Homo sapiens: one gene and its partners. The protein of the gene in region 4 purifies or fractionates together with the protein of the main gene of each other region. This does not show direct contact. Each region holds a gene or a part of one and is shown on either strand. Other genes may lie near its edges.

Region 1 (7,469 bases), on a different chromosome or scaffold from region 4:
TCACCTCTGAAGTCACCTATACTCCAGATCCATATATACAAACATCTTTTGGACACTATCATTTGGATGGCCAAAGGTATTTCAAATTCAAGCCCCAAATGGAACTAATTATCTTATCTTTACAACCTTGTGCTCCTTTACCTATAAATATATCTTGATGAGTAACATCCTCAACCATTCAGCCTTAACCTCATTATCTTCCTTGCTGCAAACCCAGTAGGTCACAAGTCCTATCCATTCATTCTACTTCCTCAACATCTCTGGAATCTTTCTCTTCTCTCTATCTTGATTGCTGCTACCATAATCATTTCTTACTTAGATAACAGTCAAATCCTCACAACTGGACAACTGAGATTGGATCTCCAAGTTAAAGGCATGTTACACAGGACCTTAAAAGGCTAGCAGAGGAATCATGACATGATGAAGAACTGCAGTCCTGCTCTTTTCTCCACACTAAAGCCAGAGAGATTGAAAATTTAAACCTGATCATGTCATTCATTCCCCTGCTTACAGTCCTAGAACTCTAAGTCCCTACAGCTTCAGGATAAAACCCCAACTTAGCTTCACATATGAAGTCCTTTATGATCCTTGCCTATTTCTCCAGCTTTATCTCACCAGTTGCCCCCTTGCCCCATCCCAGTCACCATGAATACAAAAAAAAAACACCCTATACACACCTATAACCACACTGGACTGCTTTGCAGTTTCTTGAATGTGACATGCATTCTCTAGCTTCTGTTCCTTTATATAGGCTTCTCCCTCAGCCTGGAACAGGCTTTCCTGTCCTCTTTACCATGCTAAAACCTATATAAACAAAATTCAGGTGTCACCTCGTCTAGATCACCGTTTTTTTGACACCCCTAAAGAATGTAGGTTAGGTTCCCTTTACTATGAGTTCTCAAAGCACAATGTGCTCACCTAGACGACATCATTTAACACATTGAATTTACACAGTGGAGATAATGCATTCAAAGACCCAGCGAGTGGAGTCTGATTATAGTAAAGAAGAATATTACGAACTGAGATTGGATCGCCAAGGTATAGGCATGTTACGTACGACCTTAAAATGCTAGGAGGAATAACGACATGATGCAGAAAAAGACTTCTGCATAAAAGGATGACAAGGCCGGGCGTGGTGGCTCACACCTGTAATCCCAGCACTTTCGGAGGCCAAGGCGAGCAGATCACGAGGTCAGGAGATTGAGACCATCCTGGCCAACATGTCAAAACCCCGTCTCTACTAAAAATGCAAAAATTAGCTGGGTGTGGTGGCACGTACCTGTAATCCCAGCTACTCGGGAGGCTGAGGCAGGAGAATCGCTTAAACCTGGGAGGTGGAGATTGCAGTGAGCCAAGATCACGCCACTGCACTCCAACCTGGAGACGGAGCGAGACTCCATCTCAAAAAAATGAATAAATAAATAAAAGTAAAATAAAGGGATGACAGAGTCAGAGTATGGTTAAAACTGGAAAATATTATGTAGTCTAGCCCCTTTATTTTTATAAAGGAGAAAATTAAGCCCCGGGAAAAGGGCTTCCTCAAAATCACTTTAAAGTTATAGCTTCAGGAATATGGATCTGCAGCAGTGCTTGGAATGCATAAGGGAAAGGGAGAGGCTAGAATCACAAAGACAGCTGAAAGTCAAGTCAATTGTCTAATAGAGCTTCACCCAACAGAACTTTCTGCAAAGATGAAAATGTTCCAATTCTATATTTATTCAATATGTTAGCAACTAGCCACATTTGGGCACCCAAATTTTTAATTTACTTTAAATCCAATTTGTCATATGTGGCTACTGTATGAAACAGCACAGGTCTAAAGCATTTCATGTCCAAAAAGGAATACCTTGAAAAACAATTCACTTCTACTAACAGAAGAAACTAAAACACCATGAACACTTGAAGATTGACTAGTATCACATTCTCTTACCTCCTCATAGCTTGCAGTTCTATCAATCCGGTGAATAATATCAATATTAACATTCCCCAGTCGTTCAGCAAATGTAAGAAACTGGAAGGGAAAGTATATTTAAGATACATAATTAATTAAAATTTATCAGATCTTTAATATCTATTTGAATGCTGCATGTAGGCATCTCTAATCACAAAGGATAAGTGGAAAAATAAACTGAAAAACATACGGCCGTAAACAAATTTACTGCATCACTGTTCAAAGATAATGAATACTTCTATGTTTGCATAATTTCTCTCAGCTATGTCATTTCAAATAAAATTTCCATTGCCAGACTGGTGAGCCTAGGTGGATGCTGGCAATTAGTCTCGCTAGATCTATTAGGTTTCATACCCTCCCATAAGCATGGGGACCTAGCAAAGTCGCTGCAATAAAAGTGTTTTTAAACATATACAGACCTATGATTGTATCCTAAGGAAGACCTGGAAACAATCTATCAAGGGGCAAACAGAGAAAGCGCTGTATATTTGCCCTTAGCTGGGAATCACTCACCGCCAGCCGACTCGCCCAATTCGGTCTTTAAAGATAAAAGAGCAGGGGAGAATTGGTCCTAAGCAATCTCCTGGAATAGTGAATTTAATTCTGGACTACAGGAAATTCCCAGGACTGGCCAGACCCCATAAAACATGGGTGAAACTTGCTGTCCACACTTCTTTCCTCCTCCAACCCATGTTTACTACATCCAGTGTCTCCCTCTTTCGCCGGAGCCTCCAGGAAAGTGACACACTCGGCCCAGAAGTCTGAGGCCCCTGGAGTCTCGCTCAGAGCCTGTCTCACGACTGAGGCAGCGGAGACCCGCGGCTCCCTGCCTAAGCTCCCGCGCTCACCCGGTAGGTGTTCTCGGTCTTGTGGGAAACGGGCTTTGTCTTCATGGCTGCAGAGGGCCAGTGGCCCGCGACGGCCTCGGGAGTGTCGAAGGGATGCAACCGACAGTAAGGAGGGGAAAGCGGCTCACAGGCTATACTCTCCGATTCCCAGATGCCCAGACTTTCTCACGTGCGGCTTGAGCCCCTGGGCGCCGCCATGTTGGAGACAAGGAGGAGCCTGAGTGGGTCACGTGGACGGAAAAAAGAACGGCGCAGGCGCACCCTTTGGTGGGGTGGGGCCTACAGGAGGCGGGGCTGCGCACATAAGGGCGGGCGTTTGGGTGAGGTGTTCTTTTCACTCCCTTCGGTAAAGGTTTAGAAGACAAATGTATTTTCATTATAAAATAAAACATACCTGTAATCGTTATCAACTAACATTACTGTCCCTCACTACGTACCTGCATCGTGCAAAGATCCTTTCATCCATAATTTCACAGTAAAGCTTATTAGGGATGTTAATACAAAGGAGGTACTGCGTCTATCTATATATCTATATATAGATATATACTTTTTTTTTTTTTTTTTTGAGACGGAGTCTCACTCTGTCTCCCAGGCTGGAGGGCAGTGGCGCGATCTCGGCTCACTACAATCTCCGCCTCCCGGGTTCAAGCAGTTCTCCTGCCTCAGCGTCCAAAGTAGCTGGGACTACAGGCACCCGCCGCCACGCCCGGCTAATTCTTTTGTATTTTAGTAGAGACGGGGTTTCACCTTGTTGCCCAGGCTGGTCGCGAACTCCTGAGCTCAGGCAATCCGCCCGCCTCGGTTTTCCAAAGTGCTGGGATTACAGGTGTGAGCCACCGCGCCTGGCCGGTACTGTGTATATTTTTAAGCCAATTTGACACAAGAGGAAACCAAGGTTGTGCAGCTGGTAACTGGCAGTCTTCACTCAGACTCTAAATTTTGGTATTCTTAACCACTACGCTGTAAATAAAATTGAAAAATAGAGAAGGAGTTTTAAGAAAAATCTTTTAATTTCATGCACAACCGCTGTTAATGTTTGGTGTTTTTCCCATCACTTTAATGTCTACACATAGCATGTTGTTAAATTGTACAGTTATATATACATATATGTACAATTTTAAAAAATAATTTAAAAATATAATTATTTACCCCATTTTACATTCATTCATTCATTCAGCAACTATTTCTTGAGAGTCCTCTGTGGACCAGGTACTGTTCTGGGAGCCAAACGAGAAAGGCAATAATAGTATTAATTAATTATTTGAAAATATTCACAGCCTTCAATTCCTGGGCTAAAGTGAGCCTCCCACCTCAGCCTCCCAAGTAGCTAGGGCTACAGGCATGCACCACCACACCCAGCTCTTTTATTATTATTATTATTATTATTATTATTATTATTATTATTTGTAGAGATGGGATCTTGCTATATTGCCCAGGCTGGTATCAAACTTCTGGACTCAAGCAGTCCTCTTGGCTTGGCCTCCCAAAGTGCTGGGATTACAGGGGTGAGCCACCATGCCCAGACTGGAAATACTTGGTCTGAGATGCTTACATTTTAGTCAAGGAGTGATGTTAAGTAGACAATTGGATATATTGTTGTACAGAGCTCACTGTAGCAGTCTGGGCTGCAGACGTGACTTAAATACACCTAAATACCTCAAGTGTGAGGCATTTGCGACTGGGAAAGAGAGCCAGTAAGGTAGAAACAGACTAGTTATGGCATGGAAGCAGAGCTGGTGGCCAACTATACTGCAAATTCGAGGATAGAGAAGTGGTTGCTGGATCTGACAAGGTGAAGGTCACTGGTGACCTTGCTAAGTACAGTCTAGTTGGAAGAAAGGAAGTGAAATATGCATGGATTGAGGAGGTAATCAGAGTTGAGAAAGTGAACATAACACTTTCAAATTGTTATTGGCATTATCACATCAACATTTTCTGTGTCACCACAGGGTTGTTCTAAATATTTTAATGCCTCCATAGCATTTATAGATTTTTTTATAATAAAATATTGACGTGCCTAATGTTCCATTGGCTTTCAGTAGGCTAATAATTGGTCTTTTTTTTTTAAAAGCCTTTTATGGGTCACAGGGAAATCTAAGAAAGCTGTAGAACTTCTCCCAGAAAGATGCAAAGAAGCTCATCCACACTAAAATGTGCACGTTTCAGAGAGTTAGAAGCCTGCAGTTAACTGAGGGTAGAAGCCCCCACTCAAAGCAATATTTTCCCAACCTGTTGCCAAAATCACCCCCACATCATTGTGCCATTTTCCTTCTCTGCAATTTATTTTTGGTAATGGAGTTAACTGGACAATAAGGAGTGAAGAGAAAAATCAAAGAAACTGAAAGAACTGACACAAGTTATATTGACCATTTATTGTTTGCATTGTTCTTCATTACATGACCCTCACACACTGACTTGACTCTGACTGGCTTAACAATATGTCAATAGAACATGGTGGTTGAGAGCATAGATGCTGGAACCAGGTTGTCTGGAGGTAATCCTGGTTCTGCCATTTATTAGTAGGGTCAGTTACCCTTTCAGAATGACATTTCCGTATATGTAAATGAAGCTAACAAAAGTAGCTACCTCACGGGTGGTGATTATGCAGAGTAAATAAGCTAATGGATAAAAGATGCTTAGAATGTGCCAGACACCATAATTGCGCAAGCTCAGAAATTACTTAACCTTTCTGAGACCCAATTTCCTCATCTATAAAATAGAGATGACAATAATACCAGTCTTTCAAGATACTGTGTTGGTGCATAGAGCATGAAATAAATGTTTGCTAAGTGGATAAATAAATGACCATTTATTCTCTACTACCTGGCTACCTGACAAGTTCCTTAAGGGCTGACACCTTATACTTTTTCAACTTTGTGTCATCAGTTCCCTTGAACATAAGAGTTGTTTAATGAATGTCTGTTGAATTAACAAAGCTTATAATACTTACATTGACCCGGACAAATTTAAGAGTAATATAGTTCCAGCATTGGATGTGAATTGCACCACATGATTTTTGGTATCTCTCAAAACTAAGTTTCTAAGCTTTAATGGAATACCGAAAGCATCCGTGAAGAGCACGAGTGTTTCTTATAAACATTTCCTTGCTTCCAGCGTTTGTCCTCTGTCAAGGTATAGGATGAATATCCTATACCATCCTTTATATCCTTTTTCCATTAGGGCTCTGCCTGTCCTAACTACTCCAGCCAGTAAATAACATACATTATTTTTTCATTCTTTTATTCTTAAGCTTTATAGGGCGCTCCTGGAAGTTTTGCTTTTTAATTTTTGTTTCCTTATTGCTTAGCGTGCTGCAATTTCAAGCCAAGAAACTTTAAGAGCATGTAAGAGCTAGGCCCAGTGGCTCATGCCTGTAATCCCAGAGCTTTGGGAGGTCAAGGTGAGAGGATTGCTTGAACCCAGAAATTTGAGACCAGTCTTGGGCAACAAGGCGAAATCCCATCTCTACAAAAAATACAAAAATTAGCCAGACATGGGGATGTGCACCTGTAGTCCCAGCTACTCAGGAGGCTGAGGTGGGAGGAACACTTGATCCAGGAGGTCAAGGCTCCAGTGCTGTGATCCTGCGACTGCACTCCAGCTTGGGTAACAGAGTGAGACCCTGTCTTGAAAGAAAAAAAAGGAAGGAAGGAGAGGGAGAAAGAAGGGAAAGTAAAGGAAAGGAAGGGAGGGGAGAGGAGGGAAAGGAAGGGAAGAAAGCACATGAGGAGTTTACCCAGCCTAGACAAGAAAGTGGAATCCAGAGAAGGCTTCTTGGGGGAAGTGACATCTAAGCTGAGACCTGGAAAATGAATAGGAATTAGCCAGGCAAGGAATGGACATGAATGGTGTTATCTAGGTAGAGGGAGGAGTATAGGCATTTGTCTCAAAATGGTTGAGACAAATTTGGTTACTTTTAGTTTCCAAGGCAAAGCCACACCCTGTCAAATTAGCATTGGCCATGGGTATCATCTTTAGCATCCTTGGACTAATAATAGGAAAGAATAGGGACAAGATGAAGCTCAGAGGTAAGAAGAGCCTTGGTTTTCTCATCTGTAAAGTGAGATAGACATATGAGAAAGTCAACAGTCATATGAGACAGTTGAAAGATTAACACATTGTATCACTTCTCACAGTCATATGAGACCGTTGAAAGATTAATTAATACATTGTATCGCTTCTCAGCCTTTTGGCTAAGATCAAGTCTAGTAATTAACACATTGTATGTGGTGATCTGGAAGGGGGCAAGTCGACCTAGTGGCATGGTCTTGTTTAGAAAGCAGTTCAAGGAGTGCTGTGTATCAGGGCAGAGAGGATTTGACTCAGAACAAGGGACCAAGGAAGTGAATGTAAAAAAAAGAAAGAGAAGAGAAAGTTTTAGTAATTCTTTGTTGGTTTTTTCTTAAATAGAGACAGGGGTCTCACTACATTGCCCAGGCTGGTCTTGAACTCCTGGGCTCAAGCGATCCTCCTGCCCAGCCGAGTAGTTCTTGACTGTGGTAGTAAGGAAAGCTGATCCACGTATCTCTTCTTGAGAAAACTGTGTATTGTTGACAGTGTGTGTAAATCAGGAAGCAGTGAGAGCATGGAGTTTGGATTTGGGACAACTGGGTCCCAGTTCTAGCATTTTTCATGTATTAGCCAGTAACTGGGCAACTGACTTAACCTTT
Region 2 (7,024 bases), on a different chromosome or scaffold from region 4:
CTGGACGAGCCACCGTGACTCACCTGCGTCACTATCATCGCTTCCTAACTGGCCTCCCTGCCTCCACTTTACCTGGAAGAGTGGATTTTAAATGGTCTCACTGCAAATAAATAATTAAGTATGGGAGGTGATGAATATGTTAATTAGCCTGATTTGATCATTCCACAATGGATACATGTATCAAAACATCACATTGTACCCCTAAATATATATAATTTGTCAATTAAAATTACATTACTTTTTTTAAAACTTTAACATATATCAGAATCACCTGAAGAGCTTTTAAAGCAGATTCCTGGGCCCCACCGTCAGAGATTCTGACTCAGCAGGTCTGAGTGGGGCCCCTGACTCTGCATCTTTATCCAGCTCCCTGTGACACTGACAACACTGAGGAAGAACCACAATGTGAGCAGTACTAAGTCAGAGCATGGCCTCTTTTATTCAAAGCCCTCTAAGGGCTTCTCGGGGTGCTCAAAGTAAAATCAAATGTTTTTACCTTGGCCAAGATAACTCTTCAGTGGCAAGCCTCTCACCTGTGTGACACCTGTGACTGTAGCTCCTACCACCCCCTCTCACCCTCCTGGCTGCATGGCCACACTGAGCACCGTCCCACCTCGCCAGGCCTCTGTGCTACTTTTCTGTCTGCCTAAAATTCTCTTCCACAGGACATGCACACGGCTTACCCCCTGACCCCGTCAGGTCACCTGGTTACAAAGTCTCACCGGATGTGGGATGTCAGGGTACCGACCCCACACAGGCTTCACTGTCACCCTGCACTCTCAACCCTTTGTCCTGCTTTCACTGCTCTCCACACCACTTGCCACCATCCAAAAAATGACATATTGTTCACTTATTGTCTGTCTACCATAACTATAAGTTCTAAAAGAGTAGAAATTTTATTATATTCAACTGGACATCCAAATGCAAATAAATAAACCTCAATCCATACTTTGTACCACATACAGGTGCTAACTCAAAATTGACCTAAATATAATGTCTGAAAGTACAAAACTTCTAGAAGAAAATATAGATGACTTCAGTGACCTTAGATTAAGAAAGATTTGATATAACACTAAAAGCATGGTGCATAAAAAAAGAAAACTGATAAACCAGAGTTCGTCAAAATTGAAAACTTTGGCTGTTATGAAAATGAAATTATTTGGGACTGGTGAATCCTCTTTGCCTTCCTTTTCCTCCACCCTTGAACAGGACTGTCTATAACTGATATCCCATGCCCATTCCCTAACTCTAAGTTGGAGCAGATAACTTGATTCTTGCGTTTCCCAGGTGGAAAGGAATCATGCCTCTGGATGGACTACACCCAGACCCTCTCATACCTGATTTAGATGATGAGATTTAAATGAGACTGTGGACTTTGGGTTGATGCTGAAATGAACTGAGACTTTTGGGGAGGCCTTGCGATGGAGTGAATATGTTTTGACACAGGAAGGAAATCTATCTCTGGGGGCCAGAGGGCAGAAACTATAGCACTATATGATTCTACTTATATAGCATTCTGGAAAAGGAAAACTGCAGGGGCAGAAAACAGATCGGGGCTGCCAGGGTCTAAGGCAGGGGAATGAGATGGCTACAAAAGAGTACAAGAGAATTTGGCGAGTTAATGGCTGTTCTATATCTTGACTGTTGTGGCAGTTACACAATCATTCGTTTGTCAAAATTCAGAACTGTCCATTAAAAAGGGTGAATGTTATTACATGTAAAGTATAAATCAGTATACCTTACTTTTAGGGAGTATATATTCAGAACAACTTGAATTTATACTCTTGGGGTGAAAAACTATTATTTTAAAAAATGATGTTATTTGATCCCATAGTTGCACTTCTAGGAATTATTCTAAAAACATGAGAAACATGAACAAAATTTTAAGATTTTAAGTAAAACAATTTTATCCATAAGAACAAAAATCTTAGAAATGGATATTATATAAATTATAAAAATTCACAAAGTAGGATAATATACAGTCATCAAAATGTCTCAAAAAATGTGTTACAGAAAAATGCTCATGATAGAAGAAGTGAGGTAAAAGATTAAGAGCTATATATACAGCATCTCAGCTATTTTAAATGTATACATTTTTAAATACTGGAAATAAAAAAAGAACAAATGGTGATGGGCATTAGTGTAATTTTTATTTTCTTTAAAACCTTTATCTCCTACATGTTCTGGAATGTGATGCTTCTATCATTAGAAAGCAGTGAGGGTTTGTATTAGCAGTCATCACCAACACCTACCTTCATTTATTCCCACTCCTTCTAGGATCAAGCCTAAGGCCTCAGTGAGGTTTGCAGGATCTGGCTCTCCCTCTATACCAGCCCCAGCTCACCCCACAGCCCAGCCAAGCAGAAGAACTCAAATTCACCACACTCCCCCAGTGCTGCTCCACACTCCCGCCTATGCTCAATGTGCTCCTTCCATGTAGAACACCATCCTCATCTCTACTCTACCAAGGCACCCATCTCCCTCTGAGTCACACAGCTACCATTTTTCATCCAGTTTACCCCCTAAAGTGTGAGATCACCCAACCCCACACTCAGTGCCTTAGTTTAGACCTTCACCATCTATACTAATCAAGACCCCTAAGGTTGCAAGAGACTAATTTAAACTAGCTTAAGCAAAACAGAAAAATGTATTTGAAGGATAATGGTTTATTTCCCATAACCACACTACAGGAAGAGTGGGTGCCACTGGACCTCAAATGCCAGGAGGATTCTCTTTCTCTACTGGCTTAATCTACTTTCCTTCTAGACCAACTACTTCTACACAAAGGGAAATATGGCTTCCCACAGCCATCCAGCCTCAAATCAGATCGTTTATTTATTTTTTGAGACAGGGTCTCACTCTGTCACTCAGACTGGAGTGCAGTAGCACGATCATGGCTCACTGCAGCCTTGACCTCTAGGGCTCAAGCGATCCTCCCACCTCAGCCTCCTGAGTAGTTGGGACTACAGGTGCACACCACCATGCCCAGCTAATTTTTCTATTTTTTGTAGAAATGAAGTTTCACCATGTTGCCCAGGCTGGTCTCAAACTCCTGGGCTCAAGTGATGCGCCTGCCTCTGCCTCCCAAAGTGTTGGGATTACAGGTGTGAGCCACCGCACCTGGCCTAAATCAGATAGTCTCTAACACCAGAGAAAGCAGGCTATTCTTTGTTCCCAGATCCAACAGTCCCAGAAAAGGGCTCTGACTGCCCAGGCTGGATCTGTTGCACACCCAGAACCAAGCAACTAGAGACACAAAGTTGGGAGGGGGTTACAAGGTCACACCATATTGGCACTGTTTCCAGAAAAGAGTAAACAGTTGTGATCTAGGCATCAATCCTAAAAACTTCTACTACACCATCTCTCACCCAGATCAATGTGACAGGCTAGCAACTTTTGCCTCCTCTCTCCAGGCCTGCCACCTGCAATCCATTTGCCACACTGAAGCAAGAGTGACCTACAATACATCTCTCCTAAAACCAAGGTTGGGAGGACAGATGACAGCTTTACTACTTACAAGTTATTCAAGGAACTTACGCCTTCTAAGGCTTTTAAAGCCATTGTAAAGATGCAAATACACAATTCCTACGGAAAGCTTTGCTCTCCACTGAGCAGAGTGAAAACTCAGTAAGTTCAATTCTTGATTATGATGAGGGCATGCAGATTCTTCACAATCTGGCCCCATCTTACCATTCCAGCCTTATCTTTCTCCCCTCCTCAGCCCCATCCCTCCCACCCTCTACATAGTCACATCTACACCTCCAGCTCCAGCCAGACTGATCTACTTGCAGCTCCTTCACTGCCCCACACTTTGTTCTTTCCAGACCTTTGCACTTAATGCCCCCTCTGCTTAGAAAGTCCATTCTCCACGTATATATGCCTGAACAGCTCCTACCCATCCTTAAGAACATGGCTCTAACAGATCTTCTGGAAGCCTTCATTGACTGGCTGCTTACCCCAAGCTGGGCCAGGCCCTGGGCTCCTCCACACCTGTGTATACATCTAGTTGTAGACTGCTCACATCACACTCAACTCTCCTCTCCATTTTACTCACTCTCTCCACATCTCCCTTAGACTAGAAGTTCTTGCAGCAGGATCTGCTTTATATCTAGCACAATGCCTACACAACAGGAGGTGAGAGAGAAAAGCAGCCCCTGACTGTCGGGAACTGACCCGGCACACACAGCCAGACTTGGTGTTCTAACATAAATGCAACAATTTCAAAGAATGCCAACATCAAACAAGGTCACTCTGTCACCAGGATATGAAGACAAAAATAAGACTACTCTGGAATCATATCTGAACATAGACAAAAACATGAACATCACCCAAACCACAAAATGCCCAAACATCTTCCTATCGTGGCTAATATGAAGCATTGCTGCTTCTTTATCAATTACAGCTTTAGCCTTACTCCATACCTCTTGCCTTTTCGTTAAGATTTTAAATATCCAATTGCAGAATTCCCACTCCTCCTTATTCCTGAAGCACCCGAGACTGAGCAAAGCTTTGCTTCCTTGAACTCTTCCCCGAATCACCTAACATCATCTCGAATCTTCTAAGTCCTTTCTAACAACCTGTTACAGAGACCCCCAACGTTCCCTAGGACAGGCATTCTCCTTCATTGCAGGGAGTTAATAAGACCAACTTTGTTCAACTAGAGGTATGTTCCTGGCAGTCTTTGACTAGAGGGCACTGACAGTGTTTAATAAATTTCACTGAATAATTGATTATTAAATGTCATAAGATGTTTGTAAGCACATATATAAGTGCCTAGAAATTACAAAATAAAATTAGAACATTAAATCCACATCTGTTGATACACACAATAGTAAAACCAATGACACGCTGTCATGTTTAAGAGCACGTGTGTAGTATAATTCTACTTGATAAAATAAATAAGACCCCCATATATGTATCTATCCAGTGTGTACACATGAACAAAAAGAAAAGTGTGGAAGGACACACACCTGGCTGTAAAATTCGTTATCTTACCATGTAGGACTAAAAGGAGGAGATGATTAGCTTTGCCTTCACGCGTCTTTGTGCTATATTGTTTTACTTGATGTATTAAGTCTACGTTCATTTTCAATAGAAAAAAAAATGTTTCATCACAGGAGGAAAACTACAGCTTCTCATCTTTCACATTTCAGTTCAACGTTCACTTCCAAAAGCCCTTTCGGCTTAAAACGAAGCTGTCTAGTGGTCAAAAGTATGGACCCTAGAGCCAGACTACCTTGGTTTGACTCCTGACTTTACTACTGACCATTATATCATCCCAGGCTAGTTTCTTTTTTTTTTCCTTAATTTTTTTAACTAATACATAATAATTGTACATGTTTATGGGGTATGTGTAATATTTGGATTACATGCATAGGATGTGTGATGATCAAATCAGAGTATTTAGGATATCCATCACCTCAAACTTTTCTCATTTCTTGGTGCTGGGAACATCTCAAATCTTATCTTCTAGCTACTTTAAAATATACCATAAAAAATAAAATACACAATAAACTGTTAAGCATAGTACCATGCTGCTGAACACTACAGCTTACTCCTTCTACCTAACTGTATGTCTGTACTTATTAACCAGCCTCTCTTTATCACTCCCTGTCCCCTGGGGTAGTTTCTTCACCTCAGTGTCTGAGTTTCCCCATCTTCAAATAACTGCACAATTACATGCAATGGGATTAAAATAATACCTAACCCATATGAAGCCAATAAATATTAGCTGTTTTACATAATAACAGAATATGATCATTTCTTAACCACCCTTTCTTGGTTGATTCTCATAACCTGGATTGTTCTCTATTATGGAATCTTTTTTATTCCTTCATAACACTTTACTAAACTTGTAATTTACATATTTATGTTTTTTAAATTTGTCTTTTTTTTTTTTTTTTTTAGCTACACCTGCTGGAATGGGACATATTTACCTGATTAATAGCTGTCTCTCCCACTAGGATATAAGCTTTTAAAAGGAATGAATTATTTTCTTTCGTTCTATACCAAATACCCAACACTTAGCTTAATAGCTGGCCCATACAAGACACTATATTTCTTGAATAAATGGACATCAGTTGAATCTAATGTCCACAGCACTTTCTCTCTAATGGGAATATAAGGCTATACATTCTTTTGCACAATTAGCAAAAAAATTAATGTCTTGCCACCCGTTTTGAAAATGGCAGATGTAGCCAACAGCAATGTCAGAACAAAAAATTTATGTTGTAGTAAGTCCATTTTTAGAACTTGCCAATTTAATAGGCAAAATCTCTAAATGTATTCAAAATGCTTTCACCAAAAGGCCAATCGGTTAATAGACGCACCCTATAACTTTTCTCCGGTTACAGACACAGTGCATGAAAGCAACAATAGTGCCATGCTGCCCAAGGCTTACTTATTTCTTATCCTCCAGATACGACACAGTAAGTTCCTGAATGTGGCCCCTCCCATGGTTCTCTATCTCCAGCCCCTCTTCTCCTCCTCCCACTTAAGTCTCCAGCAACAATCACCCCTGTGCAGTCCCCAGAGCCTACCCTGGTGCTGACATTCCTGGGCCTGGGTGGCAGCGCTTGCCCCCTCCACACAGAGGCCTAAGTGGTCCTCCTGAATCGTGTCTTCTTACAACCATTCTGTGCTCAAAACATCCCAACGGTTGTCCTCTCACTCAAAATCCCAGATCCCTACCAGGGCCAAGGCCTTGCTTGATCTATTCCACCCCTTCTCCACCTCCCTAAGCTCAACTCTTGCTGCTCCTTCTCCTTGACTCTACTCAGGCCACAGTGACTTTCTGTACATACGTCACCTGATCAGAGCTTCTCTGACCACCGTGTATAAATGGTGTATACCATTTATACGTGTATAAAACAGCCCTCTCCCCCTCTACTATATCCCCCTTCCACAGCCCTACTTTAAAGGTCTTCTTTATAACACCTAGCATCACTCCACATACCACATACTTTGTTTTTGGTCTGCTTCCCCTAGCCAAACAAATGTAGCTCAATGAGAATAAAGACTATCT
Region 3 (7,024 bases), on a different chromosome or scaffold from region 4:
TTTTTGTATTTTCAGTAGAGATGAGGTTTCACCATGTTGGCCAGGCTGATGTTGAACTCCTGGTCTCAAGTAATCTGCCGCCTCAGCCTCCCAAACTGTTAGGATTATAGGCGTGAGCCACCGCACCTGGCCAGAACACTCTATCTCTCTCTCTCTCTTTTTTTTTTTTTTTTTTTTTTTTTGAGACATAGTCTCGCTCTGTCACTCAGGCTGAAGTACAGTGGCATGATGATCTCGGCACACTGCAACATCCACCTCCTAGGTTCAAGCGATTCTCATGCCTCAGCCTCCTGAGTAGCTGGGATTACAGGCAGGTACCACCACGCCCAGAAAATTTTTTGTATTTTTAGTAGAGACAGGGTTTCACCATGTTGCCCAGGCTGGACTCAAACTCCTGAGCCCACACACCTGTGCTAGGATTACAGGCATAAGCCACCACGCCCAGCCAGAACATTCTTTCTTTAAGACATAAAAACTGACAATCATAAAGGAAAAGACTGATGCCAGGTACTACAATAAAATTAAGAACTTCAATCAATCAAAGGCACCAGAGAGAGTAAAAAGATGTTACACGTTAGAAAAAAAGATATTTATACCAAAAAGCTCACGAAAGATTGGCAACTCCTACAAATTATTAAGAAATAAGCAAATCAGTTGAAAAATCAACAAAAGATATGAAGAGGCAAGTTACAATAGTAAACAAAAATGGCCAATCAACACATGAAAAGATGTTCAACCTTATTATTAATCAAAGAAATGTAAAATGAATCCATAATGATATACTATTTAGTGTTCATCAGATTGGCATAAAGTCTGACAGTACTAAGTATTGGCAACGATGTGGAGTAACAGGTATTCTCAAGGCCAATGGGAGTAAAAATTCATTTTGGAAAATAATTTGAAATTAGCTACTAAAGTTGAATATGCACATATTCTACAACCTAGTATCTCTACTCTCAGACATACAATTTAAAAGCACTTCCTAAACTTTATAAGAGATAAACTCATACAATGGAATACTTCATAGCAGTGAAAATAAAACAGGAACCAATGTACACAAATCTTGGAAACACAATGCAGAGTCAAAAAAGTTTACATACGCTATCATTCCAACAATATATACAAGTATTCCATTCATATGAACAAAATTCACATAAAGTAACATTTTTAAATTGGTCAATCCAACCAAAAATTCTGTTATGTAAGATAGATAGTTTACTTGCATGTGCATCATTATAATTGCAAGAAAATAAATTATTCTTCAATCAACAGATCAAGTATGCCAAAACAAAAACAGAGAGAGCATTACACTGTACTTTATATTGAGAGTAACTGACCTATCATCCTTATAACACACTCAGAATGTATGTTTTTCCTGACTAAACAATGGGTTTGAAGAATTCTACCAAACGATCAGTATCAACGAATATGCCATATGAAGGAAACCACATGTTATCAAGATATAGAACAGGTGCCTTTTCTTTTTTTTTAGAGGATTAACATACCAATGATCATCAGCAATCAGCACCCCAGATAACTGAATATCATGGCTTGAGTTTGGTTTATACTTTCCAACTGTAGTTGTTCCTTCTTTTATCATATATAGCAGCATCTCAGATAGTTGTGGATCTTCATTCAGATTAACAAGGTTTGGTAAATGATTGTCCATTTGAAACATAATTCCTGCTTTCTGGTAGAAGTCAGAAAAAGAAATTAATCTTAATCACAGTATGAAATTGTTAAATTCACCTAAAACAAATGGTCTATATTAAACATTAAAACAATTCTATATGAAGTCTCACTAAATTAAAGGTTATTTATTTATTTTTTTATTTTTATTTTTTTGAGACAGAGTCTCGCTGTGTCACCCAGGCTGGAGTGCAGTGGCACGATCTCGGCTCACTGCAACCTCTGCCTCCTGGGTTCAAACGATTCTCCTGCTTCAGCCTCCCAAGTAGCTGAGACTACAGGCGCATGCCACCACGCCCGGCTAATTTTTGTATTTTTAGTAGAGATAGGGTTTCGTCATGTTGATCAGGCTGGTCTCGAACTCCTGACCTCAGGTGATCCACCCGCCTCAGCCTCCCAAAGTGCTGGAATTACAGGCGTGAGCCACCGTGCCCGGCCATAAAGGTTTTTTAGACTCTCTCCTCCTTCCTTAGAATCTCTCCTTTGTGACCTCCCTACCTTCTTTGTCCTTCACCATCCTCAGTCTACTCATACATCAATCTATCATCACCAAATTGTGTCTTCTTATTGACTGACCGTCTTTAGAATAGATCAGTTTGTTTTGTTGCATCTTCATTGCCTTCACCACAGGCCCCTGTCAACTCACACCAAAACTACTGAAGCAGCCTCTTGATCACCGTCAACAGCTTCTGTTTTCAATCCATCTTATATCCTATGCCAGGTTAATTCTCTCGAAAGGGTGCTCTCAAAATGTAAATTCCCTGGTCACTTTTTAACAGCTTCTCACTTCCTACAGGATAAAACTTAATTTCCTTGGCCTGGAAATCAAGTCCTTCATAAACTAATCATAACATATCTTTCCAATTGTATCTCCTTATGATCTCATATAAACTGCTTCCAGTAAAACTGATCTACGTACCCTTTCTAAAGACAACTCAAACTTTTCTACCTTTACTTTCAGAGAATTTTCTCTTCCAAGAATGTGCTCTTCCTTTTCTCTTCCTATTAAAATCTTACCCAAACTTCAAAGCCCATCTCAAATGCCACCTCTTTTATGAGATTGGATTGGCCATGCGCAAGGAATTTTCCCTTCTTCTCCTGAATTCTTATAGTACTCCCCCACTACCAATCACTTGAAATACTTTTCATTACATTAGGTTCAACCATATGAAACTGCCAGTGTTCAACCATGCTTTACCTACAAAAATGGCAATTGCTTATGGCTCAATCTACTGAAATCACATTGCATTTCAGTCTTCTATTTACGTTTTGTAAATCTCTCTCTGGATCACAAGCTCTCTGAGGGATGAAACTGTGTTTAATCACCTTGGCTTCCCCTGTTCCTGAAAAGCATAGACATTTAATATATATTTGTAGAACCAAAGTAAATATAACAAGATGGTTTATTCATACTTTAACTTTCCAACTAGTTTATGGGCTGGCTCTAAGCAACCAGTCTTGATCTTAACATTTCTTTATATTAATTTTCCTTACGGTATTGCTTTGTACAGAGTCAGTATATAGTAAGTATTTGAAACATTAAATTTACATGCATTGGCATATTGGCAATATTTATTTCTTGGCATATTTCTTTTATTTTCTAATCAGTTTAGAAAGTTGAAATAATACCTGTAACTCTTTTGTTTCTTGAAGTTTTCTTTTTTCAGCTTGTTCAAACTTTTCTTTCCACACTCTTTCCAAAGACAAAGAAAATAACAGAGTTAAAAACATCCAGATGTATAAGATTGAGAGTCAAGAGACAATCAATGAAAATTAGGCAACTACCTAGTAATATTTAAAATATGATAATCTGGGAGTGGGCTGCTCTATTCATAAGGAAGGTCGGAAAAATACTCAGTATCCTCTTGAGGTCCCTGCCATTCCTATGATTCCAGAGCAACACACTTAACATTTAGAGTACTGACTGTACTCTACCTTTGCATTTCTGCCATGTCTCTCTCCTGTTGATGCAGTTTCATTCTTAAGGATGTTATTTCTTGCCGACAGAGCCTGTATCGTTCAGGGTCAATATTCCGACTGTTTCTCTGAGCAGCTTTTAGCTTTGCAATTTCTGCCTTCAATTCTGAAGATTTATACAAAGATGCATTAATAATAACATTTAATATATAACAATTTCCACAGTAAGCATAATCCTCCAATCTTCTATTTCATTTGAAGTTTTAAATACAGTATTACTAAATAAAATAGAATATTGGAGAAATCAGCTCTACTTTATATAACCTATAAATCTTTACTTAGTCTTAACCTGAAATATGCTCCCATATTAATGAACTTTCCCTGTTCATAAGTAGGAAAGCTGTATAATGTACTGACCAAAGTGGAACACTTTTGAGAGGCAAAAGGGTAATTGTTAAAGTGAAAGTTTATTTAAAAAGTAAAGAAATAAAAGAATGGCTATTCACTAGGCAGAACAGCCAAGATCAAAGATTTTTCAAGCTGGAATTCAGAATATTTATTTATTTATTTATTTAGACAGAGTCTCACTGTCTAGAGTGCAGTGGTACGATCTCGGCTCATTGCAACCTCCGCCTCCTGGGCTCAAGCAATTCTCCTGCCTCAGCTTCCCGAGTAGCCAGGATTACAGGTGCCCACCACTGTGTCTGGCTAATTTTTGTATTTTTAGTAGAGACAGGGTTTCCCCATGTTGGCCAGGCTGGTCTCGAACTCCTGACCTTAAGTAGTCCGCCTGCGTTAGCCTCTCAAAGTGCTGGGATTATAGGCATGAGCCACCATGCCCGGCCCAGAATACTTATTTTTAATGAAAACAGTCCCACTTGTGAAACAGAAGGGATCCAAAAGGGAAAGGATGGACCAGGATAGACAAATCAGATTCTTCTCTGGCTCATACATCTGAAGTGTCTATCACCTTCTGCTGCTAAAAAGGGCCAGAGGACAAAGGGGCATGAAAAGATGATAGTTCTACATCAGCAAAGATAAAACTGTACAAATCAAGATTTCTTGCAGGCATTAAAGTCTATCCTAAATTGATGATTACCTAGAGATAAATAGAAAGCAGTATTTAGCATAAATGAAGTTCAGCCTATACTAGAAACTCGAGCTCCAATTGCCTTTGGATCAATGAACTAAGCATGAGCAGAGCTAGTACATAAAACGTCAATGGAAGAGAGGTCATAAGAGAAAAATAGTAAATAGTTTTATTGGCATTTTGCTGCACACGTCTATGACTGTGTAAATTTATTGTTTAATGCTTACTGTTTCCCCCTTACTCACACTCTGTTTTCTATGTTCTTTTCCTAATTGTTTTTCTCCTTATTACTTATTATCTGTCCTTCTACCTATCATCCTCCATCACTATAGGCTGATGACTAGAATCTATTAAAATAGGTATAGAAAAACACCTTTGATGTTCATAAATTACATATTTTAAGACTGCAACTAATATCTGGGACTAAACTGTGGCAAAACAATTTTTAAATTCTGAGAAAATATTCACCTCTAATTAACTTAGCGTTCATATCTTCATTTACTTTAGCAATGTTGACTATTAAACGGGCTTGGTTAGCATATCTAAGTGTGCTTAATGTTTCTTCTATGTTGCTGGCAGCGGGACTAATCGTAGCAATCATTGCAGTTTTTGAATTTCCACCCAGACTTTCTTTTAACAGCCTACAAGAAAAAAAGTCATAAGACTTTGCTTCTACAACAACTTAATAACAGTAATTATCTAGAAAGCACAAAACAAACTAATAGGGTATATAATACAGTATTATTATACTCTACTCAAATACCATTTAAAACTTTTCTGGTATTTGTAACTATTTCTAGATCTCATAAACACTTTTTCTCTCTTACACTTTTTATATTGTTTCAAGAGGCAATAATCTGTGCAGAGATTCTAAAATGTGGTGGATCATCAAGTATTTCATGACTGTGAGCTACCATAGGGAAGGGACTATGTGTCTTGGTCATCTTTGTATTTCCAGTGCTACCACAACCTTTTGAAGCAGGTGCTCAATAAATGTTGAAAATGATGAACATTGAAACAAAAATTCTATATTGTACTAAAAGCAAAATCTTTATTTTAGAGAAAAAGAGTATGAGACTTAAAACATATATTAGTGCAGAATGAATGTCACTATTTTTAACTTTCATAAGACATGAAAAAAATCAGATTTTCCCTTATAGGTTTCAAGGTGGCAATCACATTGTAATAAACCAATTATAAAGACACATTACCCTCAAGTAAAGATGCAGTCCTTATTGTAACTGTATATTAATGCCTATCACAACTGAATATTAAATCCATACAGATGTAATCTGAATGTAACATATTGAAAATTAAATATACATTCACTAATGAAAACATTTATTGAGCACCCATGTATTAGTCACTGTGTAGTAAGCAAACAAAATTATTCAACTTCTCTTTATACAACTAGCAATATGTTTGGTAGTACCATATATGTTCAAACATCAGCCACAAATAATAGTTAAGTACAAGAACAGTTATTTACACTCATATAGTACATATTATGTATTAAGAATTGTACACTAATAATCTAATTCTCACTTACCCCTAAAAGGTATTGATTTTATTCCTATTTTACAGATGAGGAAACGGGCTAGAATATTAAGTAATTTGCCCAAAGTCACAGAGCTTATAAGATGCTGAGCTGAGATTCAAATCCAGGTAGTTTGGCTCTAGAATTCATAATGCTTACCACCTTTCTCCATCCCAAAGTTAATGAAGTCAGTCTATCATTCTTTTCCCCATAGTATTCACTATATTTTATACAATTCTTTATACTTCAAAAGATACTTGCCATGTAAGAACAGATTCACGATAAGGAATAAAAACACTCCTTTGGTTTGCTTGTTCCGAAAGTGCAGATATAACTTTTCCCAAAGTTAGCAAGGACTTATTAATACTCACACCTTCCTGCATGCAAGAAAAAAAAAATTTTTAACTTAAAATACTTCTCAGCAAGAAATTTATTTCACAAAATATATTTCTCCCCTCATATAATTACTGAGTAAATACTTTTTTACTTTCTTTTTTTTTGAGACAGAGTCTCACTCTGTTGCCCAGGCTGGAGTGCAGTGGCATAAACATGGCTCACTGTAGCCTCGACCATCCAGGCTCAAGCAATCCTCCCACCTGAACCAAGTAGCTGGGACTACAGACACATGCCACAATGCCTGTCTATAAATACTTTTTTCTATAAACTACCAACTTTCTTATGACTCAAACGTATTTTCTTTAAAAATTAATCATAACCAAAAAGTACGTATCTCTTTTTCAACCACAGCAATGCAGTCTATAAACTGCAGATAAAGATATATTTGGGGAGGT
Region 4 (7,621 bases):
ATGTCAGAATGAAGTGTTTATACTCAACACTAAAAGCAATGAGACTACTAAAGGTTTTTGGAAGAAGGGAGAAAAACCATAGAATTATAGAAATTTTGAATTGAACATTCCCCTACCCCTATGCCCATTGTACAGACAAGGGAGTCAGAATAAGAACCAGAGAGGTTGCCAGACTCTTAAGTTCCAGCTTCGTGCATTCTACCAGCGGCCTCACAGGGTTACTCGGGTAGCAGTGTGCAGGATGGAGGAGAGAGGACAGGCAGGACAGGAACGTGGCAGCTACTATAGTCATCCAGGAGAGAAGTTAAGGTGGCACAATGAGGGCCGGAACGTTACGGGAGTGAGGCAGGATAGTGGGTCAGAAGAGGGGCTGAGCTGGAGCTCCTTCTCTCTTCTCCATGGGGCTCAGAGCACTTCTTATTCATTCACATCAGAGAGGTGGGTTATTTGACCTCACTCATTGGCAGGTCCAGGAAACATGGAGTCAACTGTCCCACAGTTCAGACGATGAACACTCTCCACCCTCCCAGCCCCTGTTTGATACTGTGCAATCTTTAGAAAAAGAGAAGCCAAAAACCATGCCAGCCAGGATCAGAAGCAGCCCTGGAACTGCCCCTTTAAAGGACCAGTATGATGATTTCAGGATTCAGACAACTTGCTGTGTTTTCTTTCTGCCTTTGCTGAACAGTGTCCGAGCATTCCATGGCTCCAAACCATTTCTTAAATAAGGACAGGTGCTCAAAAAGTGCAAATTTTTTTTCCCTTTCCCAGACCTCTCTCCTATAGGTCACGCTGACATCTTACATTCCATGAAGAGGATGGTGAGATCGAAGAGCCAGCCAGGTGTGGCAGAGGGTAAGCGCTTTGAGAATCTCTGCAGCCACAGGAGGCTGTAAAGCAATGCGCTTTAGCAAGCTTTCTCTGGAAGCAGGCAGCCTGCGCTCAAATTCCGTCTCCCCTAATTATGAGTGTGTGGCCTTGAGCAAGTTACCTGGCCTTTTTACAGCTTGGTTTCTTCATCTGTAAAATGAGGGTAGCCAACAAGGATGGCTGGGCAGCCAATAGGCTTGTTGTGAAGAACAAACGAATTACCAAGATAGTACATATAAAGTGTTCATATAACAAGGACTATTAGCTGTTTTTAATAAGAGAGCCCTGAAGTTTCATTCTACTAAATATCTGGTGATTGGTAACCTAGTGGTAGAGTCCAGTAAAGGGAATCAAGGTGCCATCCAGCTGCGCCAGATGTGCACAGGAACAGTATTGCAGTATTTGGTTAAGTCTAAAAGAGTTTAGAAAATAACCCCTCCCCACCTGCCTTACTTGAGCAATAGTTTGGCTTAGCCCACCTCTTTCATTTCTCTAACTTAAGTGATTATCAGCCTGAGGCTGGCCAAGATGGGTATGCATACAGTATAATTGGTTTGTAAAGTTTCAAAAAAGACAGAGAACTCTAACCACGTATTTCAGGATTTGGTGGTTCTTCTAGACACCAGCCTCCTTCAAACCTCTGGTGTTGTAGGCTAGAAGGGACTTAGGAACCATCTAGTATTCTCTTTCCAGAGCTAAAGACGTGGAAGCCCTGGATAAGGAGTAAGTTGTCTGAGGCCACCCAGCTAGTCAGTTCAAAACCAGGACCAGCTCTCCCGTGGCCTGGTGTTCAGGGTAGTGCTCACTCTTGACCACTGGCTGGCTCTTTGATTTTCTGATCTCCAGCTAACTGTGGGGCCTGTCTGCAGTGGATCCCATGCTTCAGGGTGCATAGTGACGTGCCCTTGGCTCTCCCTGACTGCCTTTCCTGCCCTGGCTCCTCAGACATTTCCAGTCACTCCGGTGGGCTCCTACCACCCACATCCCTGATGTCCTCTCCTGCAAACCTGCCTCTGCCTCAGGGCCTCTGAGGCCCCAAGAGTCCTGCCTGGGGGACCCCAGGAAGGGACGCTCAGGAGGACTCTTCCCTTTGCTCTGGAGCCTGTTTCAGGAAAAAGTGGTGCTTGCTCTATTTCCCTCTGTTCTGGTTCCTCTGCTGCGTTTTTTCCAAGTCTTCTTCACTCTCTGTGCTCGGACTCCCCCAGCCTTGCTCTTCTGTTTTACATTCCTGTTCTCCTCTTTTTCTCTCTCCTTCCCAACCCTTCCCCTTTCCCCTTTTCCTTCCTTCCCTGTGTGACTTGGGGCATTTGCATCTTCCTGGTGCTCCTTGGGCCCTGCCCTTTTTCCCTCTCCCCTTTCCTCTCCAACCCTGCCTATCCCCCACTCTGCTCACCCTTTAACACATCTGTTTCTAATCTGAGCCTCGGAGGCGCCTGTTTGAAACAACAACAAAAAACCCCCACCCTCAGGAACCTGGCACAAAAATTCCTGGATAAACCTTCCCTCCACCAATTCTCCACTTTTCCCAGATACACCAGAAACTAAACACCGCCCTAAAGAGGACCCTGCACATCAAACGGTTCCCCAAGCCTGTTCAAGGGCCCAGATGTGCGAGACAATCTCGATGGCCGACTGGGCGGCCCTCGGTTGCCAGATGTGCTCCTCCGTGGCCAGGAGGCAGGGACTGAAAAGCCGGCTGACTCCAGGGGCTGCAGGGACACCCGGTCAGAACCGGCGTCTTTCCCGGACGCAGGGCTGCGTTTGCCCACGGCCATCCAAACTCCCGCCCTCCCAGAGGCACTCACCTAGCAAGAGGAGAAGGAGGAGGGACATCCCGATCCCCGGACGCGGGCGCTTCCCCGCTCAGCTGCTGCTTGGCTCCGGGGCGGCCGGGCGCCTCCGACGGACCTCGGGCGAGCTGGGCGCGGCGCCTCGGGGTGCGCGCGAGGTGGCTGCAGCCATGTGCCGGGCGGGAGCCGGCCCCGCGCCCCGTGCCCCTGGGGGCAGATGGGCTCCCGGCGCTCGCCCCACCAGCTGGCGCCCGGACGGGAGCCGGGACCAGGGTCAGGGAGGAAAACGCGAGGCGAAAAGGCGCTACCGCTTCGTGGAACACTTTTCCCTGTTTGGAAAGAAAAAGGAGTGAAGAAAGAGAGAGGGAAAAAAAAAATTCAGCTGGAACCACATGGTTGCCTCCTACCGCAGCCCCTCCCTCTCTCTCTCGCTGTTCCCTCCTTCCCTCCCTCCCTCCCGCGCGGCGTTTGGGGTTTGCGGTGGGGGCCGGTCGGGGAGAAGCGTGAGCTGGCCGGGCAGGGAGGGCCGGGGGAGACCTGGGGCCGTGCAGAGGCGGGTGGGTTGAGAGGCGCCGGGCGTAGGATTGATTCTTTGCAGGAGGCATTGGTGACACCTCGGCTGAGAGCCCATGGACGAGGCCTTGTCCGTTCCTAGAGCTCTGCTCTCACTTGGTCCTTCTCTCCACTTCTCTCTCGCTTCTTTTTTACTCTCGTTTCTCTCTGCTTCCACGTCTCTCACAAATCTGGCGTTTCTCTCTTCCATCTCTTCCTCTCTAGGTCTCCTTGTTCGCATTCTTGCCTCTCCCTCCTCGTCTCCTCATGCCCTCTCCCCTCTGTCCTCTGCGCTCTTCTCGCCTCTCCTCTCCCTCCCCGTCTGGTTCTGTTAGTGTAAAGCCACCAGACTGACCAGGCCGACGGCGGGGCGCGGAAGTGGGTGCGAAGGCAGCCAGCGGCCGGCCGACCAGGGCTCTCCCCACCGACTGCCTGCTTTGGCACCCGGCTACCCCCCTTGGCCTGGCTTTCCTGGGGCCTTTCGCGTTCGCTCGCTTTCTACTGTCGGTATTTGCAGCAGCGCTCCCTCAGGTCCCGAGCAGAGCTAAGCCAGCCAGCACCCAGGGGAAGGGGACCCACAGCCCCGTGGAAAGAGGTCTATCGAGATGCTTTGCAGCAAAGTGCTCTGCACGTGGCCCTGGCCAAAATGTGCACCACCCCCTTTCAGAAAGAACATAAGGCAGAGGGAGCAGAATCCCCCTGGTGCCAGGGCCTGCGCGCCCGGGCTCCGGGAACCCGGCCCAGGAGGCTCGCGGAGGGCAGGAGGCTGGCGGCCGGACGGGGGCGGACGGTGGGTTCCGCGGAGCCGAGCAGCCCCGCCCCAGGGTCGGCCCCTGGGAGTCTGCCCTTCACTACCCTGCTGCTCAGCGGCAGCGGGAGGCAGCGAGACTAAGAAAGGGCAGTGAGGGTGGCGCTCAGACCTCAGCTGCCTGGACCTCCTGCCCTGACCTTGTGCCCAGGGCCTCTCAGAAACTCTGGTCCCAGTCTCTGAATGTCCCTGGAGGGCTTCTCCCTCAGCTGCCCAGAGGCATGATGACGCAATCGCTCACCTTCGGCCTCGCCAGAGCCCAGGTTGGAAGCCGGGGCCAGCGCTCTTGAGAAGAAAGATGAACCCCGCCGGGGCCGGTGGGCTGCCGAGTCACACATTTGCAATGAAATGCAAATGTGTAATGAAAACCCGTCCCATTTCGCAGACTAGGAAAGCAAAGGCCTGGAGAGGTTATGGAAGTTTCACAAGGTCACTCAGAGGACTTGCAAAAGCTGGGGCTGTTCCTAGGGCTCGCGGATCAGCTGGAGCATTGCTTTAGAATTGCAGCATTTCTCCACTCACTCCCTCACCCCTTCGATACCGATGTGTTAGCATCCACACTATGCCAGGTGCTTTTTTAGGTGTGAGGACACAAAGTGAGTAGAACTTGGAAGTTGACATTTAAAAAAACCTGGGAGGAGTATGTCATGAACACCAAGTATGGACCCAGAATCATATTATATTATTACGTGGTTTTTATTGGGTCATATTATTGACCTTTTTATATCATTCTTATTATACTGCTAAGGGATAGTCACTGAAAAAAAAATCACCATCCCTTAGCATGAATAGGAAGACAAGGAAACTATAACTTAGAGAGGCCTAAATATCTTGCCCCAGATCACAATAGAATTAAAATGCTTCTATTCCAATATTAATATTCTAATATTTAAAAATATTATTTTTTATATTGAGAAGTGTTTAAAAGGTCTCTTTGACTCCGAAGTAACTTTATTTTCCATTTCATACTAATTGTCTAATAGGGGAAATAGATACATTCACAACTATAATTTGTAAATGAATATGTTGAAAAAACCGTCTTTTTTCTTTTCTTTTTTTTTTTTTGAGACAGAGCCTCACTCTGTCACCCAGGTTCACTGCAACCTCTGCCTCCTGGGTGCAAGTGATCCTCCCACCTCATCCTTCCAAGTAGCTGAGACTACAGGCTCACACCATCATGCCCGGCTAATATTTGTATTTTTGGTAGAGATTGGGTTTCGCTGTATTGCCCAGGCTGGTCTCAAACTCCTGGGCTCAAGCAGTTCACCTGACTCGAACTCCCAAAATGCTGGGATTACGGGCATGAGCCACCATCCCCAGCCAAAAACAGTAATTCTTAAAGGCTGGAGAAGGTGGCAGAAAAACTACATACAGAAGGTAACTCTTTTGTTGTTTCTGCTTTATAATTAAAAAAAAAATTGACATTTTGGGCTTACAAAAAAGTTGAAAATAGTACAAAAATTCTTCACCCAGATTCCCCCTTTTTATTTCTCTCTAGAGGTGGGGTTTTTGCACAAGTTTTAAAGCCTCACCTCCACCCCACCGCTGCTGGTGGCCTTTCTCAAGAACTTAGTAATGCCAGTGCTGTTTATTGCTTGAGGGCTGGTGTGCGCATGAAGACAGATGTGTGTGGGTGTAGGCAGATATGTGTTTAAACCCAGTTGCTCAAGCCGAAGGTAACAGGCGCCTTTGGCTCTAGGTCATTAGTCACCAGCACAGGAAATGATTAGACTGAGATTGGGTCACAAGCACTCAATTTTCCCAGCCCCAAGTCTTGTAGCCAATATGGCACATATTTTTTGGAAGAGGATCTTTGGGTCCCTGAAGGTGTCTGTCTCTAAATCTGAAACCTCTTTTCTATTGGCATGGGTCTCTGGGCAGGAAGAGCAGAGAGAGAGTGCTTCTGCGATGGTTTGTAACTCACATCCCATCCCTACCAGTGCTGGGCCCCACTCTGGGCTGGGTGCCTCGGAGGATCCCAAGATTACGAGATAGTCCTTACCCTGAATGGACGGACCTCTCAGTTCAGAGGGAGAAAAAACACCAACATGGGAAATGTTTCAACAACAATACAAGAAAGTTAGATAGTTAAATGCCACAGTAAATTATCCTGACAATAAAAAACAGTGGGAATTCCAAGAAAGGAAAGAGCACCTTAGGCTGGGGTAATTGCGGAGGAGAGCAATGATGGAACCAGCCCTTGGGGGATGAACAGAATGTCATTAGAAGAGATGAGCTGGGGAGAGCCATGAGTGGGGGCATTCCTGGACAAAGACATGGAGTTAGGAATAGCTTTGGCATATTGAGGGGCCTTGAATGAAATGAAATGCTTGAAATAAAAATTGTTGTTGAAGCAAAATGCCCTGGGGGGCAAAACTGTGACAAGTTCCAAATGTGAGGAAAAGGATTCTAGAACTCGTTCTGCAGTGTTCTTCCAGGCTCTTTGAAACAAATTTAAGAAAAATCACCTTGATGAGAGCCTTATTTTAGGAAGTGGAAATTGGCAGCTTCTGCCCAGAGGTGACTACAACAGTTGGCCAGGGTGGAGAACTTTTGCGACCCTTTCATATCTGTCAAGCTACCTTTGTCTCAATATTTTGTAGAGTGATATACATATGCAGATTCAAGACACTTCCCTTGTCCTTCCCAATTTCTGGGGAGCCAAAGAGTACCACCCTAAACCTCTCCTTTACAGGAATTCTAGAGCTATCAACGGGAGTGTATGACGCACTGGAGAAGAAACCTGAAGGACAGGGACTGTTTAGGACCTATTGTATTAAATAGGCAGATAAGATGAGGGTAGTGAAACAGTGTAGAAGACATTGGGAAGAAAGATTTGACAGGGTTAAGTACATAACAATCAATGTGGGTGAAAAGAGTGGAAGAGAAAAGAGGCACCGAATCTGAGTATAAATGACTGAATACATTGTTACATATGCCAAGATTGATACCGACCATTTATCTACCTCCTGGTATATTCCAGAGATTATAAGCATGATTAACAGGTATCACAATATCATACCACAATGAAGAAACTAAGGTTAAGGTTTAGCAAGATTAAATAAATTGCATATCATCCCATGGTTAGTAAATGATTGAAGCAGGATATAAAGTCAGGAGATTCAAAGCTTTTACACCTCACTGTCTTTTGAATAGTACTGCTGACAAACTAGGGAAGTTGGGTAAGTTAACTTGTCAGGAATGGAAGGATAAGTTACCCAATTACGTGGAGACATAGTAACTGAAGAGCTGATAAATCATCATCCATCCATCCATCCCTCCATCCATCTTTCTATTCTTTCTTTCAATCAATAATACAGCAAATCTTTGTTAAACACCTACTATATGCCAAACACTGGAAAATCAATGGTGAACAAAGGAAAAGTTGTCCTTGTCCTGCAGAAGCTTCTGGTGAGTTAAGGGAAATGAACAACCAATAAGCAATTACAACATGGAGTGAGATATGCTCTGCTCAGAGAAGAGCAGAGTGCTATGGAGATCACAGCAGGACCTTACACCTAGCGTAGGAGATGCCAAAAAGACATCCTGGGAGAAAAGTGCTGTGAACTGAGGGGGAGATGGAGACCTGTGCTCTTCTCTC

What was found.
Region 1: the proteins of CLMP (region 4) and UTP20 purify together in Homo sapiens (affinity purification with mass spectrometry; 2 studies listed by BioGRID and IntAct, with this or other methods). This does not show direct contact.
Region 2: the proteins of CLMP (region 4) and KIDINS220 purify together in Homo sapiens (affinity purification with mass spectrometry; 2 studies listed by BioGRID and IntAct, with this or other methods). This does not show direct contact.
Region 3: the proteins of CLMP (region 4) and KIF14 purify together in Homo sapiens (affinity purification with mass spectrometry; 2 studies listed by BioGRID and IntAct, with this or other methods). This does not show direct contact.

The regions. Positions count from the first base shown.
Region 1 is NC_000012.12:101,275,658-101,283,126, reverse strand, and holds the start of UTP20 (small subunit processome component 20 homolog), read right to left. Parts: upstream 3,023-7,469; 5' UTR 2,845-3,022; coding exon 2,800-2,844; intron 2,012-2,799; coding exon 1,931-2,011; intron 1-1,930. UniProt on the Homo sapiens protein: Part of the small subunit (SSU) processome, first precursor of the small eukaryotic ribosomal subunit.
Region 2 is NC_000002.12:8,827,593-8,834,616, forward strand, and holds part of KIDINS220 (kinase D-interacting substrate of 220 kDa), read right to left. Parts: intron 1-7,024. UniProt on the Homo sapiens protein: Promotes a prolonged MAP-kinase signaling by neurotrophins through activation of a Rap1-dependent mechanism. Provides a docking site for the CRKL-C3G complex, resulting in Rap1-dependent sustained ERK activation.
Region 3 is NC_000001.11:200,596,732-200,603,755, forward strand, and holds part of KIF14 (kinesin-like protein KIF14), read right to left. Parts: intron 6,611-7,024; coding exon 6,495-6,610; intron 5,338-6,494; coding exon 5,165-5,337; intron 3,773-5,164; coding exon 3,625-3,772; intron 3,383-3,624; coding exon 3,319-3,382; intron 1,691-3,318; coding exon 1,506-1,690; intron 1-1,505. UniProt on the Homo sapiens protein: Microtubule motor protein that binds to microtubules with high affinity through each tubulin heterodimer and has an ATPase activity. Plays a role in many processes like cell division, cytokinesis and also in cell proliferation and apoptosis.
Region 4 is NC_000011.10:123,192,238-123,199,858, forward strand, and holds the start of CLMP (CXADR-like membrane protein precursor), read right to left. Parts: upstream 3,012-7,621; 5' UTR 2,704-3,011; coding exon 2,676-2,703; intron 1-2,675. UniProt on the Homo sapiens protein: May be involved in the cell-cell adhesion. May play a role in adipocyte differentiation and development of obesity. Is required for normal small intestine development.